Linked DNA regions of Homo sapiens: region 1 is linked to region 2. Evidence: fine-mapped expression QTL. A gene starts in region 2. The other region holds a variant in brackets. All regions are shown on one strand. Distances are between the middles of the regions. Region 1 overlaps UBOX5 (U-box domain containing 5). Region 2 holds the start of DDRGK1 (DDRGK domain containing 1).

What was found. PIP is the estimated chance that this variant, and not a neighbour inherited with it, causes the effect. A credible set is the group of variants that fine-mapping cannot tell apart.
Region 1: its variant is the best candidate, but not a certain one, in a credible set for the expression of DDRGK1 in whole blood (INTERVAL, PIP 0.67).

Annotation. Positions count from the first base shown.
Region 1 is chr20:3,148,289-3,156,615 of GRCh38, reverse strand. The region is part of intron 1 of UBOX5 (U-box domain containing 5); the gene reads left to right. It overlaps FASTKD5 (FAST kinase domains 5), which reads left to right. Exons shown (of 2, transcript NM_021826.5): 2 at 7,356-8,327. The coding sequence starts at 7,546. UBOX5-AS1 (UBOX5 antisense RNA 1) reads right to left here. Exons shown (of 7, transcript NR_038395.1): 7 at 5,749-6,078. Among named protein-coding and RNA genes, the nearest start is that of FASTKD5, 7.4 kb to the left of the region's middle. The variant G/TG (reference allele first, on the strand shown) is at 4,516.
Region 2 is chr20:3,201,231-3,209,518 of GRCh38, reverse strand. DDRGK1 (DDRGK domain containing 1) reads left to right here and starts at 4,837. Exons shown (of 9, transcript NM_023935.3): 1 at 4,837-4,982; 2 at 6,103-6,306. The coding sequence starts at 4,892. ITPA (inosine triphosphatase) reads right to left here and starts at 21. Exons shown (of 8, transcript NM_033453.4): 1 at 1-21. RefSeq lists enhancers at 1-426, 4,926-5,145, 6,149-6,747.

The sequences.
Region 1 (8,327 bases), 53 kb after region 2:
AGGGTCCAGGAGTGTCTGAGGCTCTACTCTGTTTCGTTAGGACCCCTAAAGGGGAGAAAGGTATACTTGGGGCACTTAAACTAGGAAAGGAGTTTTGTGAAATCATATCAGGTATCTTTGACCTTTATTGAAAGAGTCAGGCCGGGCGTGGTGGCTCCTGCCTGTACTCAGTACTTTGGGAGGCCAAGGCAGGTGGATCACTTGAGGCCAGGAGTTTGAGACCAGCCTGACCAACATGGCAAAACCCCGTCTCTACCAAAAAATACAAAAAAATTAGGTGGGCATGTTGGCGTGAGCCTTTAGTCTCAGCTACTTGGGAGGCTGAGGCAGGAGAATTACTTAAACCCGGGATGCAGAGGTTGCAGTGAGCTGAGATCACGCCACTGCACTCCAGCCTGGGCAACAGAGCAAGACTCTGTCTCAAAAAAAAAAAAAAAAAAAAGAGTCAGAAGTTAATTGACTGAGCATCTCATAGTGTTCTCTTTCCAGCTTTCCTATGGATTTTCTGAGAGTCTTTGAGTAAGGAGGAACTAACCTTCTCAGGTATGTTTTCGCTATCTGGTCATCCTGACTGCTGCTTCTTTGCAGTGTCTTTTCTCCCTACTGTTCTTCTCTGCTGCTTCTGTATCTTCCTTGTTTTTCTTTCCTTCTCCACAGTACTCAAGACCAACTTCTGAAGTCCTCTGTTTCAGACCTGTGTATGTAGATACAGTTTCTATAGAGTTACTGTAAATGTTGCATAGTGAAAAGAGTAAGTAGCCACTGTTTACCATTTGTAGGTTGGCTCTTCATGCCTCTAAGATTCCTTATTTTGTTATCATTTCTGTTATTGAACATCTTTAAAGAAGTTCTTAGGTAGTAGAAAGTGCTTGCACTAAAAATAACTTTTCAACATTTTCCTTATCTATTAAGCTACTTTCTCCATTCATTATCTTGAACAATACCATAATATCTTCATAATACATGGATTTTTTAATTTAATTTTTGTCAAAATTGTACATGTACATGGTTTAAACAGTCAAATAGTTCAGTAGAGCTTGTAACACTAAATAATAGTTTCCTCTCCCGACCCACTTTTTTTTTTTGAGATGGAGTTTCGCTCTGTTGCCCAGACTGGAGTGCAGTGGTGCGACCTCGCCTCACCACAACCTCTGCCTCGCGGGTTCAAGTGATTCTCCTGCCTCGGCCTTCTGAGTAGCTGAGATTACAGGTGCCTGCCACCATGCCTGGCTAATTTTTTGTATTTTTAGGAGAGACGTGGTTTCGCCACGTTGGCCAGGCTGGTCTCAAACTCCTGACCTCAGGTGATCCTCCTGCCTCAGCCTTCCAAAGTGCTGGGATTACAGACTTGAGCCGCTGTGCCCAGCCTACTTTTTGTATTTTTAGTAGAGACAGGGTTTCACCATGTTACCCAGGCTGGTCTAGAACTCCTGGCCTAAAGCAATCCGCCCACCTCAGCTTCCCAAAGTGCTGGGATTACAGGTGTGAGCCACTCACTGATCCTGGCCATCACTATATTTATTTTTTCTTTTCTTTTCTTTTCTTTTTTTTTTTTTTTTTTTTGAGACTGTGTCTTGCTCTGTCGCCCAGGCTGGAGTGCAGTGGCACGATCTTGGTTCACTGCAACCTCTGCCTCCTGGGTTCAAGTGATCCTCCTGCCTCAGCCTCCCAAAATATTGGGATTACAGTTGTGAGCCACCACACCTGTCCAATTGTACTTCTTTATTATGGACTTTGAGGCTCTAGGTCTCTTGTATCATCAACCTCCCCCTACTCCTCCTCTTACTCACTTTATCCTCCCAATATAGTTTGCTCATAATTTTTGGTTAGGCTAATATCAAGATTTATATTAATAAAATTATGTTAGTATTATTCTCAACTGAATAGGGAGTATGATATACTAATATTTTCTTTACTCTTTTTATTTATTTATTTATTTTTTGAGATAGGGTCTCTCTCTGTCACCCTGCCATAGCAGGATCACAGCTCACTGCAGCCTTAACTTTTTGGGCTCAAGCAACCTTCCCACTTCTACCTCCTGAGTAGCTAGGACCACAGGTGTGTGCCACCAGGCTTGGCTAATTTCTAAATATTTTGTAGAGGTGGGGGTCTCACTACATTGCCCAGGCTGGTCTCAAACTCCCGGCCTCAAGTGATCTTCTCACTTTGGCCTCCCAGAGTACTATGATTACAGGAATGGGCCATTGCATCCTGCCTGTGGTAACATATTCTATCTTGTATAACTTTTTTGTCTTCCCTGGCATTAATAATTTTTGTTACTGTTTTTATTAGCATGGCTTTTTGTATCCTTATCTCTTGTTCATGCCCGGATTATCCGGTAGAAGTATGATTCTCCTCTCCTGGGTACTGTCTATGTCGTCCAGCATGAGCTGGTTGCTCTTTATGTCTGTTCACAGCTCTTGTCCTGGGATCTTCCTTCACCTTTTTCCTGGGATTTCCCTTTGCTTCTCTGTATTGAACCCTAGTTTCTGGATCCCATATCTCTACTGCCAACTTTCAGGTCTTCAATTGTGGTAGCTCTCCTTACTTTGATCCTGGAGCATCCTGCGAACTCTTTGCCTCATGTAGATTTCAGCCTTTGAGGTCTTCTCTTTGTTCTTTTTTAAAGTACAGGTTGAGCATTCCAAACCTGAAACTCCAAAATGCAAAATGCTCCAAAATCTGAAACTTTTTGAGCACCAACATGATACTCAAAGGAAAAAAAAATGATTGGAGTATTTCAGATTTTGGATTTTTGAATTTGGAATGCTCACTGGTCAGTATAAAGCACATAGTCCAAAAACTGAAAAAGTTTAAAATCTGAAACACTTCTGGTCTCAAGCATTTTGGACAAGGGATACTCAACTTGCAGTATAAACCGTAGTGATAGAATCGTAGACTGTTAGAGGTGGAAGGGACTTTCAAGCTTACCTAGTTCTAACCCTCCAGCTCCCTGGCACCTGGAAATCCTAGAAGACCATAGATTGTTCAGCCATCCCACCCCGTACTGCCCCCCGAACCTGTTTTCTGACATCCATTCTTGTCTCTCTAGTACACCAATAATGTGGGCTGAAGAGTCAGACAGTCTTTAATATTAGGCTCCACTCAATCCCTTGGCTGTGTAACTTTTGGCAGGTTTCTTAATCTTGTGGTCTCTTTCTCATCAGTAATATGGGGATTATAAACTTACATTACAGAGATGTTATAAGGATGGGAACTAATGCAGATAAAGCAGCTTTACAAGGCTCTAAGCCTTGGCACAGAGGAGGCCCTAAGGCATAGCTCTGGTTATTTCCATCTTGGATCTTAGCCTGTGTTTTTACAAATCAAAAAGTGTCACATGAATTCAAAACACTGGAGCTGCACCAAACATTGATGTTCTAGGAGATGGTTCTTTTATTTCCAGACCACGTATAGTAATTTCATTAAGTACTCTTAGGTAGAATTAATTGAAGTAATTTTAATTATTTAATGTTTTAAAATTAATATCATTTATAGAGATATTTGTTAATTCTTGTTTATGTGCTATTTGTTCCACTCAATATTAGTGTGTACTTTTTCATGTGTTGATGCCTGCCACACATTTATCTTGTAAACCAGCCTCCTTCTAGACAGACATTTTCTGTTTTTCGCTTTACTATGGCACAGCTATTTTATTTAAAAAATGGGACCTTTAAATCTATTTTTTTAGGATCTACTTTTTTTTTTTTTTGAGACAGTCTTGCTCTTTCGCCCAGGCTGCAATGCAGTAGTATGATCTCAGCTCACTGCAACCTCTGCCTCCTGGATTCAAGCAATTCTCCTGCCTCAGCCTCTCAAGTAGCTGGGATTACAGGCGCACTACCACGCCCAGCTAATTTTTGTATTTTTAGTAGAGATGGCGTTTCCCCATATTGGCTAGGCTGGTCTTGAACTCCTGTCCTCAAGTGGTCCGCCCACCTTGGCCTCCTGAAGTGCTGGGATTATAGGTGTGAGCCACTGTGCCTGGCCAGGATCTCCTTCCTCAAATGAGATGAAGACTACAGATTTGAACAGTATATGGCTTTAGTTGCACATTGTGGTGGATTAAATTAAATTCCAAATTCGAAAGTAGGTCTTCCTCTTCTTTTTTTTTGAGACAGAGTCTTGCACTATCGCCCGGGCTGCAGTGCAGTGGCGCTATCTCAGCTCACTGCAACCTCTGCCTCCCAGGTTCAAGTGATTCTCCCGCCTCAGCCTCCCGAGTAGCTGGGATTGCAGGTGCCCCAGCTGCAATTGCAGGCGCCCACCACCACGCCTGGCTAATTTTTTGTATTTTTAGTAGAGACAGAGTTTCACTATGTTGGCCAGGCTGGTCTCGAATGCCTGACCTCATAGATCCACCCGCCTCAGCCTCCCAAAGTGCTGGGATTACAGACATGAGTCACTGTGCCCAGCCAAAAATAGGTCTTCTTAAAAGCCCTGTTCTGTCAGCTGGAGAGTTCTGTTACCTGCTATCTCTGTTTTTTTGGTTCTTTTTTTTTTTTTTTTTTTTTT[G/TG]AGACAGAGTCTCTGTCACCCAGGCTGCAGTGCAGTGGCACCATCTTGGCTCACTGCAACCTCCGCCTCCTGGGTTCAAGCGACTCTTGTGCCCCAGCCCCCCGAGTGGCTGGGATTACACGCTCATGCCACCACACCTGGCTAATTTTTGTATTTGTAGTAGAGATAGGGTTTCACCATGATGGCCAGGCTGGTCTCGAACTCCTGACCTCAAGTGATCTGCCTGCCTTGGCCTCTCAAAGTGCTGGAATTACAGGCATGAGCCACCACGCCTGGCCATCCTGCTGTCTCTTTTGTTCCCACCTTTCCTGTGCTGTAGTATTAATTGGATTTCCTAATGACTATTTTGAGGACTGTAATCTTCAATTATCATCTAAATATTAAAGAAAAACATTATTTTAGTACTATTTTTCTATAGTTTTTCCAATTTTAATTAAAATTTTTTATTTTTTTAATTTATTTTTTATTTTATTTTATTTTTTAGACAGTCTTGCTGTGTTGTTCAGGCTGGTCTCAAACTCCTGGCCTCAAGCAATCCTTCTGCCTCAGCTTCCCAAAGTGTTGGGATTATAGGCGTGGCCAAGTTTTTCTAATTTTTAAAAAGCTGGCTATCTGCATTTATAGAAATAGTGTGTAGCAGAGATCAGCAGACTTTTTATGTAATAGACCAAACACTAAATATGCTTTGCAGGCCATACAATCTGCCACAGTTACACAGTTCTGCTCTTGTAGCAGGAAAGCAGACATAGACAATATATAATGAATGGCCTAGCTATGTTCTGAAAAAACCTTGTTTACAAAAACATGTGAAGAGCTAGATTTGGGCCCCAGGACATAGTCTGCTCACCCTTGATCTGAACCACAGATTGAAATTTGGTGGGCAGAATGGTCCACAGGTGGTCAGGCATGGTGGCTGATGCCTGTAATACTAGCACTTCAGGAGGCCAGGGTAGGAGGATCACTTGAGCCCAGGAGTTTGAGACCAGCCTTGGCAACATTGTGAGACTCCATCTCCACACACACACACACACAAACACACACACAAACACACACTAACTGGGTTTGGTGGTGTGCACCTGTAGTTTTTGCTACTTCAAGAGGCTGAGGCTGAAGTGGGAGGATTGCTTGAAGTGGGAGGTCAAAGCTGCAGTTATCATGCCACTATACTCCAACCTGGGTGACAGAGTGAGACTGTCTCAAAAAAGAAAAAAAGAATGGTCCACAAGCCACAGTAAAGAACCAAGTGTATAAAAATTTAATGTGAGAGAATTCTGCTCTGATTCACACAGAAATTCATACATATGTTCCTGCCATCTAGAGAAGCCTGTGTAGCTGGGCTACTGGAACAGAGCCACTGACCTGCCCTGCTGTTCTTTGATGAACTAAATGATGATGTGCTATGGGCTCTGGAAGAAAGTGGCTGACAGCAGAGTTAGGCAGGCATTTCAGAAAGTCATTCTGGCACCCTTGGAACTTTTATGGAGTTTTCTGCAGCAACAGCCCTGTCTGGTACATCAGTTGACAACTCAGGTCTCCTTGGGTCTTGCTTGTCAGGCTTTGGCACTTAAGTGGAAAGAAAAAGAATAAGCATTAAGGAAAGCGAGAGCACAGCAGAATCAATTTCATAGTCTCTCATGGTTTCTGCCATGGGAGAAAAATGGGCATTATACTGCTCACAGGCAGAATAAAGACTCACTGGAAACATTGCTAAGCTGCCTTCTCCAGAAGATGTCAGCGGGGCAGTTGCGTCAATTGGCGTTCCCTGAACCCTGAGCCCAGCTTTGGGGTACTCTTTGCTTCCCACCCGTGAAGTGACAGTGAGCAGACCCTCAACCTTCTGCTTTCTCCCACCAAAATGAGTGAGTTTTTTAGTATACTTTCTAATAACACCATTACTCTGTGACTACTCTCTAATAGTGACTCAAATTCTGTTATAAGCTTCCTGAAGAGGAGAGTAGGCATCTTCTAAAAAGTAAAAGAACAGCATTAGAATGACAGAATTTTGGAATTAACAGTTTTGCGCTATAAGAACAGGGAGGGTTATCGTAGGTATAACTAATTAAATCTTTTTTTTTTTTTTTTGAGATGGAGTCTCACTTTTTCGCCTAGGCTGGAGTGCAGTGGCACGGTCTTGGCTCACCGCAACCTCTGCCTCCTGGGTTCAAGGGATTCTCCTGCCTCAGCCTCCTGAGTAGCTGGGATTACAGGTGTGTGCTGCCACACCTGGGTAATTTTTTGTATTTTTAATAGAGACGGGATTTCGCCTTGTTGGCCAGGCTGGTCTTGAACTCCTGACCTCAAGTGATCTGCCTGCCTCGGCCTCCCAAAGTGCTGGCATTACAGGCATGAGCCACCCACACCCAGCCAACTAATTATCTTTTATACCAGATCCCACTTTTTACTTAGTGCTGTTAGCATAGCAGTTTTTATAAACATTCTTCAGGTAGGACCTGTTTGCCTTGATATCAAAGAGATGGAAGGAGTTGCTCACTTTTGTTCCCAGCCTTCTTTCTAGAAATCTGCCTTCCTTCTTCCTATCAAATGTTAGCGGAGCACCGTCTCTTCTTTAGCCGTCACTGCTTGCCTTGTACAGTGAAGGAAGTCTGGTGAGCAGCAGTCCAGGAACTGCCCACGGGTACCCTGGGTTGGGGGTTTTCCTAGGCCTTTACACAGACCGCAGAATTTATCCTTGATATATGCTGTCATGTGGTTTGGGCATTTACTAGCATTGAACTTATTTGAGTAGACAGCAGTGTAGTTTCAACCTGTTTTTTATAATGTGTAAATTTGGATGCTTTTATAGGTAGAAGCCACTCATTCTTCATCTACCCTTTTTTCAGTATCTGGCACCAATTCTGACCCAGTCATTTGTGATCCCTGGCTCTTGTGATATGCTGAAGATTTCCAGGCAGTTTTTGTGGAACACCTCCCCGTCCAGCTCTAATCAAGCACCATATAAACAAGAAATTGCCTGGTCAAATCTGTGAGGACTGTATTCTGACTGCCAAAGAGATCAATACTGACACCAGAATGGCAGCTACTCTCAAGTCATTAAAACTTGTAAGATACCGAGCATTTTGCAGTCCTTCTGCCTTTGGTGCAGTCCGAAGTGTGTCATACTGGAATGTGAGCAGCACACAGCATGGGGGACAGGACCCTCCAGAACACATTAGCCTCTGCCATTCTGCCAAAAAAGTTAAGAACATATGTAGCACCTTCTCTTCTCGGAGAATCCTGACAACCAGCAGTGCCCACCCAGGTTTGGAATTCAGCAAGACTTCTTCCTCTAAGGCCAGTACATTGCAGCTGGGCTCACCCAGGGCCACAGGAGTTGATGAAGAGGACGTAGAAGTGTTTGATTCCTTTGAAAACATGCGAGTTTTCCTACAGCTAAGACCAGAATACCGTGTTCACAGCTATAATGCATCTGAGACTTCTCAGCTCCTGTCTGTTTCAGAAGGTGAACTAATTTTGCACAAAGTCAGAGTTAATCAAAATAATCTCCAGGCTCAAGTCATTGTTGATTATTTGTGTAAGCTGAGCTCTTTGCCTGCAGAGCAGCATCCTGTCTTGCTGGGCAGTACCAGCTTTGCTCTGCTCTGCCAGCTGAGTGTGAAGAAGATACAGCTCTTTGATACCCAAGATCTGATCAATGTTTTGAAAGCTTTTGTCATTTTAGGAATCCCTCACTCCCATTCAATGCTAGATGTGTATGAGACCAAGTGTTGCCATCAGGTATGGGAGATGAATATGGATCAGCTCCTTTTGGTGGCTGATCTCTGGAGGTACTTAGGCCGCAAAGTACCTAGGTT
Region 2 (8,288 bases):
AACTCCTTGGCGTCCAGTGACAGAAAACTTCCGGCTGGTGGCGGAAGTGAACGGCTCAGTTTCCGGCCAGGGGTCCCGGGGAAAGCCGACCCGGACCCCAAGGCGCGTATCGGGCGAGTGGGCTCGCGGTGGCGGCCTAGCCCACAGCGTCCGATTTGCTGGGGGCCTCCCGAGCCTGGAGACTGAGTGACCCACCCCTCCTGCCTAAGGGACGCTATCTTCAAGAACCGGAAGAGACCACTCCCACCCCCACCCCGCCCCTGCTTTCGCTCTTCTCTGCAATGGGGTCTCCGAAAGGAGAAGACTGCAGCCCTGTGACCCTGGAGGTTTGCGCTCTCCTATGCTGTCTCAAAAAACTGCCTCCTTCTAGGCAAGGGCTTCCAAACCCTCATCCTGATCTCACCTTCAGCCTTACCCGCCAGCTATGATCCACTCGACTGTGAACTTAAACTCGGCATAGCCTAAAACAAGCCCAAACTTCTCACCCGTTTTCACTCCTAGGCTTGAGAGCTCAGTATGTAGAGTTCCTCACTTCCTCATCCCTCCAGCCTCTCAAATCTATCACCCCTTCTCCGTGGCCACCGTTTCAGCCAGATCTTTGCATTCCAAACACAACAGAAAGTAGGAAGTGCCCTCTCAAAGGTGGGTCTGCTGAACCTCTGCTGATACTCTCTTTGCAGCAAGTCATCTGACCTCCCTCCTCCAGAGACTCAGCCCTCTGCCCCCCGCCTGGACCCCTGTGTCAGTACCTCTTGAATGGCCACTTCTGCCCATGGACAAGAAAGGGAGGGAGTCTGAGTTCTTACCAAGCTCCTCAGGCCATTCTGATGCTCATCAAAGTGTGGGAAAGCCCGGTGGCTCACGCCTGTAATCCCAGCACTTTGGGAGGCTGAGGCGAGTGGATCACCCGAGGTCAGGAGTTTGAAACCAGCCTGACCAACATGGAGAAACCCCATCTCTACCAAAAAGTACAAAATTAGCTGGGCATGGTGGTGCATGCCTGTAATCCCAGTTCAGAGAATTCAGGATTCAGGAGAATCGCCTGAATTCGGGAGGTGGGGGTTGCAGTGAGCGGAGATCGTGCCATCGGACTCCAGCCTGGGCAACAAGAGCAAAACTGCGTCTGAAAAAGAAAAAAAATGTGTGGGAACCACTGCTTTGGGTGGTGACCTGTTTTCTTTTATTGAAGTAGAAACACTAACCATTATGCAGAGTCCCTAGAGGAGTGGCCATGGGGATTTGGGGGCAGAGGAGGGCTTGGGGGACATCAGTTACCCCGAGGAGCCTGAAAAGAAGAAAAACAGCCCACCTTACATGGATGCCTTTCTTGGATCTTAGCCAGCTCAAGCCCCAGCTCAGGAAAACCTTCCCTGAGCTCCCTTTCATCTGCTTGCATAGCACTGACCTCTGCACTGCAAATAGATATTCATTTGTGTGATTCTGTTTTCTCTTCTAAAAATCCTAATGGTAAAAACCATATCTGTTTTTGCTCACCTCTCTTTTTCTTTTTTTTTTTTTTTTTTGAGACGGAGTCTTGCTCTAGTCACCTGGCCTGGAGTGCAATGGCATGATCTTGGCTCACTGCAACCTCTGTCTCCTGGGTTGAAGCGATTCTCCTGCCTCAGCCTCCTGAGTAGCTGGGACTACAAGCACCCCCCACGACGCCCAGCTAATTTCTGCATTTTTAGTAGAGACGGGGTTTCACCATGTTGGCCAGGCTGGTCTCGAACTCCTGACGTCGTGATATGCCCACCTCGGCCTCCCTAAGTGCTGGGATTACAGGCATCAGCCACTGTGTTTTGTTGTTGTTGTTGTTGTTGTTTTGAGATGGAGTCTTGCTCTTGTCGCCCAGGCTTGAGTGCAGTGGCACGATCTCGGCTCACTTCAACCTCCGACTCCCGGGTTCAAGGGATTCTCCTGCCTCAGCCTCCTGAGTAGCTGGGATTACAGACATGCACCACCACACCCAGTGAATTTTTGTACTTTTAGTAGAGGTGGGGTTTCACCATATTGACCAGGCTGGTCTCAAACTCCTGACCTCAGGAGATCCCTCCACCTCAGCCTCCCAAAGTGCTGAGATTACAGGCTTGAGCCACGGTGCCCAGCCTCACCTCTCATTCTTAAATCCCAGCTCCTGGTACATAGTAGGTGTTCTGTAATGTAAGATAACTAGCTTGGGCACAGTGGATCACTTGATCCCAGGAGTTCAAGACAAGCCTAGACAACATGGTGAAACCCAGTCTCTACAAAAAATACAAAAAATTAGTTGGGCTTGGGGGCACACACCTGTAGTCACAGCTGTTTAGGAGGCTGAGGTGGGAGGATCACCTGAGCCTGGGAAGTCGAGGCTGCAGTGAGCCAAGAGTGCCACTGTACTCTAGCCTGGGTGATGTGAGTGAGACCCTGTCTCAAAAAACCAACAAACAAAAAGATCACAACTGACATCTATAATTACAAGTCCATAGATAACTTTCTTTTTCATTCTTTTATTTATTTATTTTTTTTGAGATGGAGTCTTGCTCTGTTGCCCAGGCTGAAGTACAGTGGTGTGGTCCCGGCTCACTGCAACCTCTGCATATTGGGTTCGAGCAGTTCTCCCACCTCAGCCTCCTGAGTAGCTGGGACTCCAGGCATGCACCACCATGCCTGGTTAATTTTTGTATCTTTCTTCTTCTTTTTTTTTTTTTTTTGAGACAGTCTCACTCTGTCGCCCAGGCTGGAGTGCAGTGGCGCGATCTCAGCTCACTGCAAGCTCCGCCTCCCGGGTCCCCACCATTCTCCTGCCTCAGCCTCCCAAGTAGCTGGGACTACAGGCGCCCACCACCACGCCTGGCTAATTTTTTTGTATTTTTAGTAGAGACGGGGTTTCACCGTGTTAGCCAGGATGGTTTTGATCTCCTGACCTCGTGATCCGCCTGCCTCAGCCTCCCGAAGTGCTGGGATTATGGGCATGAGCCACCACACCCGGCTAATTTTGTATTTTTAGTAGAGATGGGGTTTCTCCATGTTGGTCAGGCTGGTCTCAAATTCCCGACCTCAGGTGATCCACCCACCTCGACCTCCCAAAGTGTTGGTTGGGATTGTAGGCGTGAGCCACGGTGCCCAGCTTTTTTTTTTTTTTTTTTTTTTTTGAGACTGAGTCTCACTCTGTTGCCCAGGCTGGAGTGCAATAGTGTGATCTCGGCTCACTGCAACCTCTGCCTCCCGGCTTCGAGAGATTCTCCTGCCTCAGCCTCCCAAGTAGCTGGGATTACAGGCACCCACCACCACGCCAAGCTAATTTTGTATTTTTAGTAGAGACAGGGTTTCACTGTGTTTGTCAGGCTGGTCTCAAACTCCTGAGTTCAGGTGATCCACCCACCTCAGCCTCCCAAAGTGCTGGGATTACAGGTGTGAGCCACCTCGCCCAGCCCATATTTTTTCTTTTTCTTTTTCTTTCTTTCTTTCTTTTTTTTTTTTTTTTGAGACAGAGTCTTGCTCTGTCGCTCAGGCTGGTGTGCAGTGGTGCAATCTTGGCTCACTGCAACGTCCGCCCCCTGGGTTCAAGTGATTCTCCTGCCTCAGCCTCCCGAGTAGCTGGGATTACAGGCATGTGCCACCACGCCCCACTCATTGTTTGTATTTTTAGTAGAGACAGGATTTCATCACGTCAGCTAGGCTGGTTTTGAACACTTGACCTGAAGTGATCCGCCCACCTCGGCCTCCCAAAGTGCTAGGATTACAGGGGAGAGCCACCTCATCTGGCCCGTATTTTTTCAAATCCCTTTCTCACCATTGTTCATTGGTCCTGAATTTATTTTTATTTATTTTTATTTTCTGAGACAGGGTCTCACTCTATCACCCAGGCTGGAGTGCACTGGCATGATCATGGCTCACTGCAGCCTCGACCTCCCTGGGCTCAGGTGATCTTCCCACCTCATCTTCCCAAGTACCTGGAATCACAGGTGCATGCCACCACACCTGGCTAATTTTTGTATTTTGTAGAGACAGGGTTTCATCATGTTGCCCAGGCTGGTCTTGAACTCCTAGGCTCACCTCTACCTAGACTTCCCAAAGTATTGGGTTAACAGACGAGCCTCTGTGCCTGGCTCCTGAAATAAATCTTTACTTCTGTTATCATGTATACAAAAAGCTTAATAAATTCCAGTACTGCCCTCCCCTCCCCTCCCCTTCCCCTCAAAAGAAAGAAAGAAAGAAAGAAATTCAGTGTCACAGATACAGCAAAACCCCAACCCGCTTCCCTCCTCCTAGAGGTAATCGCTATCCTGAAGTTGGTGTGCATCAGTCCCAAGCCTCTTTTCGTACTTTTTCCACGGTTGTTTCCATAAACACTATGTGGGATTGTTTAGTGATTTTTAAAACATATATAGTCCGGGCGCGGTGGCTCACGCCTGTAATCCCAGCACTTTGGGAGGCCAAGGTGGGTGGATCACAAGGTCAGGAGTTCGAGACCAGCCTGGCCAACACGGTGAAACCCCCATCTCTACTAAAAATACAAAAATTAGCCGGGCGTGGTGGCGGGCGCCTGTAATCCCAGCTACTCGGGAGTCTGAGGCAGGAGAATCGCTTGAACCTGGGAGGTGGAGGTTGCAGTGAGCCGAGATCGCACCACCGCACTCCAGCCTGTGCGACAGAGACTCCGTCTCAAAAAAAAAAAACATACATAGATGTTTTCTACTGGACATACCGTCTGCTATAATTTCCTCTTAACATTGTGGGTTTCTTTACACCCCCCAAACTCATTTTAATGTCTGACATTAAAGCCTCTCTGTGATGTGCCGCTGGGCGGGGCTCCGAGTAGTGGGCGGAGTCTAGATTGGGAAATAGGGGCGGGGCCTATGAGATCCCGGCCTCAGGGTGGACGCAGTGGTTCTGCACTGAGGCCCTCGTCATGGTGGCGCCTGTGTGGTACTTGGTAGCGGCGGCTCTGCTAGTCGGCTTTATCCTCTTCCTGACTCGCAGCCGGGGCCGGGCGGCATCAGGTAGGAGATGCCGCTGCACCAGGGTTGGTGGTACCGGGTTTTCTGGCCTTCTGAGCCTTTGTGGACCGTCGCGCCGCGGCTCCTGCGCGTGCGCACCTGGGCGGGCGGGACGCATGCGCGTCCGTGCGCTAGTCGTGTGCCGGGTGGGGCTTCCGCAGTGCCCTACCTGGAATCGGTGGCCGCGCCGCTACCCCTTTCTCTCGACTCCAAGCCAGAGTCTGGCCTCATCCCTCTCTTCACCCCCGGGAACTCCATACCTCCAAAGGCCTGAGGCCCTGGCCGGCGCACACTCCCATCCGTCACCGTCGGGGCCCTTTCCCTCTGCACCTGTTAGGGAGGCCGCAGGGGTTTTCCATTCCTCCCAGCCTGGCTCCAGAGCAGGTGCCAGGAAGGGGGCATCTGAATATTTTCTGCCTGTCCCCCACGAGCTGGAGAAGCGCGAGGCGGCTCCAGGAAATTCCTGAAGCTCTCTCCCTTCCCGCCAAGGAGAGGGCCCACTCTCCCTCCCCAATCCGCTCCCCGATCAGAAGGCCATGTCATTGGCCAGGGCACAGAACAGATACACCCATCCTCCCTCTTTCCCCCCATTTCTGGTCAGCGGGCGGGTTTGTATATGTGTTTTCCTGCTCCCTGGGCCCACAAGCTACCTCTGAGCACCTGCGCGCTCCCAGGAGCGGAAGGGACACGCTGAGGGAAGGCGGAGATCCAGCAGGTCTTCCCGGGGGAGGCTCGGCCACCGCCGGGAAGTGTACTCTCTGGCTGGGGAGCCAGATAAAACCACAGGTGGTGTTAGGCGAGAAATCAGTGGATTCCTGCAGGGGGTACTCGATGAGAGCTGGGGACATCAGGATAGGGGCCTCCTGACAGGCCAGCTGGAAAGGTGGAGCCGGGAGGGGAGAGGAGTATTCACACAGGCCCGAGGGAAGGGCTGAGCCCCCGCCTGGGACCAAGCTGTGGGCCTGGTGGAAAAGGCCTTGCCAGTCAGACTGAGAAGTCGGGGCCTTGTGCTGTGGGCAGCAGGCCGCTAAGCAGAGGAGGTGAGGCTTCCGGGCTGCCGCTCCTCCTGCCATGGGCCGGGCTGGGCTTATAGGCAGCATTGTCATTTCTGTCTTCCCTACAGCCGGCCAAGAGCCACTGCACAATGAGGAGCTGGCAGGAGCAGGCCGGGTGGCCCAGCCTGGGCCCCTGGAGCCTGAGGAGCCGAGAGCTGGAGGCAGGCCTCGGCGCCGGAGGGACCTGGGCAGCCGCCTACAGGCCCAGCGTCGAGCCCAGCGGGTGGCCTGGGCAGAAGCAGATGAGAACGAGGAGGAAGCTGTCATCCTAGGTGAGAGGGGCCCAGCCTGGTGGGGAGAGGGTTTGGGTTGGAGGGGGGGATAAAAGGGCCCCCAAAGCTAAGTGGGGGAGTAGGGTATGAAGCCTCAGGGTAGGAGGGACGTCTGGGAGCCACACGGTAGAGTAGGGGGGGACTTGGGACCTGGCATTTGTTCCACTGGGTCAACCCCCCCTACCTTCATCTTGGCTCTCAGTGTCCAAGCAGAGGGCAAGGGTCTTCAGTTTGATTCAGAATGTTCCTCAATTCACCCCTTCTATCCTCGCACCCTTCCTGTTATGGGCACACTTATTCCCTGAGGATTTCACCCTAGAGGCAGAGTGCCTGGCCAAGAGTTTCTGCAGTTCCTGGAGTGGGGTCACCCACAACCCCAGGAAAACAGTTTAAAGATAGAGACATTCTGTTGACACAGAGGCCTCCATATCCCTGCTTCCAGGAGACCAGGAGAGCCCTCAGGATTGTCTTCTCCAGTACTTGGCAGCTGGCTTGAGCCTGAGGAGGGGGCGTCTGGGCGTTTCTCAGAAACTGGGGGCATTTGAGGCTTTTGCCTTGTACCTTTGGGGATTATCCCTTTAGCTCAAGAAGAGGCCCTTTCTTTGCCGTACCTTCTGGCTCAGACTTGGGTTCAGAGACCCTTGCTGCACAGGCATCAGTGGGTCTTTAACTTGCAGCTGGCCCTGAGGTAGTCATAGTGTTGGGACTGTCATTTCAGCCAGGGTTTGATGGGCAAAGGGATAATCCTGGCCAGGGACTAAGCCCAGAATCCTCAGCAACTCCTGACGATTGTGAGGAGGATTTCAGATTTGAGGCGGGATAAATTTCCTCATGGGACTTCCCTTGCCTGGGGGTTTGGCACCAGAGACAGAAGCCAGAGAACTCTGGAGTTCATTAGCCAGGATATTTAAGGTACATTAGGTGAGACCAGCATTCAGAAAGGTAAAAAACCCTCTCTGGGCCGGGCGTGGTGGCTCACACCTGTAATTCCAGCACTTTGGGAGGCCAAGGAGGGTGGATCACGAGGTCAGGAGATCGAGACCATCCTGGCTAACAATACAAAAAATTAGCCGGGCGTGATGGTATGTGCCTGTAGTTCCAGCTACTTGGGAGGCTGAGGCAGGAGAATGCCATGAACCCGGGAGGTGGAGCTTGCAGTGAGCCGAGATCGCGCCACTGCACTCCAGCCTGGGCGACAGAGCGAGACTCCGTCTCCAAAAACAAATAAACAAACAAAAAAAACCCTCTCTGGGCTGGGCATGGTGGCTCACGCCTGTAATCCCAGCACTTTGGGAGGCCGAGGCGGGTGGATCACGAGGTCAGGAGATTGAGACCATCCTGGCTAACATGGTGAAACCCGGTCTCTACTAAAAATAAAAATAAAAAAATCAGGGGGGCATGGTGGCTGGCGCCTGTAGTTCCAGCTACTCGGAAGGCTGAGGCAGGAGAATGGCGTGAACCCAGGAGGTGGTGCTTGCAGCGAGCCGAGATCGCGCCACTGCACTCCACCCTGGGCAACAGAGCGAGACTCCGTCTCAAAAAAAAAAAAACCAAAAAAAACAACCCTCTCTCCTAATGCCTCCCCTATGCTGTATTCTGGCTTATCAGCCACAGTACCTTAAATATCCAGGCAGCGCTATCTGTGACCCCGAGACACTTGCATATTTTAATCTGATACCTCCTTCTTTGTGGCTATGCAATATCTAAAGTTCTCATCTTTTTTTTTTTTTTTTTGAGACAGAGTCTTGCTCTGTCACTCAGGCTGGAGTGCAGTGGCGTGATCTCGGCTCACACCACTTGGCAGCAGATCTCGGCAAGCTCTGCCTGCTGGGTTCATGCCATTCTCCTGCTTCAGCGTCCCTAGTAGCTGGGGCTACGGGTGGCCACCACCACACCTGGCTAATTTTTTTTTTTTTTTTTTTTTTGAGACAGAGTCTCGCTCTGTCGCCCAGGCTGGATGGAGTGCAGTGGCGCGATCTCCG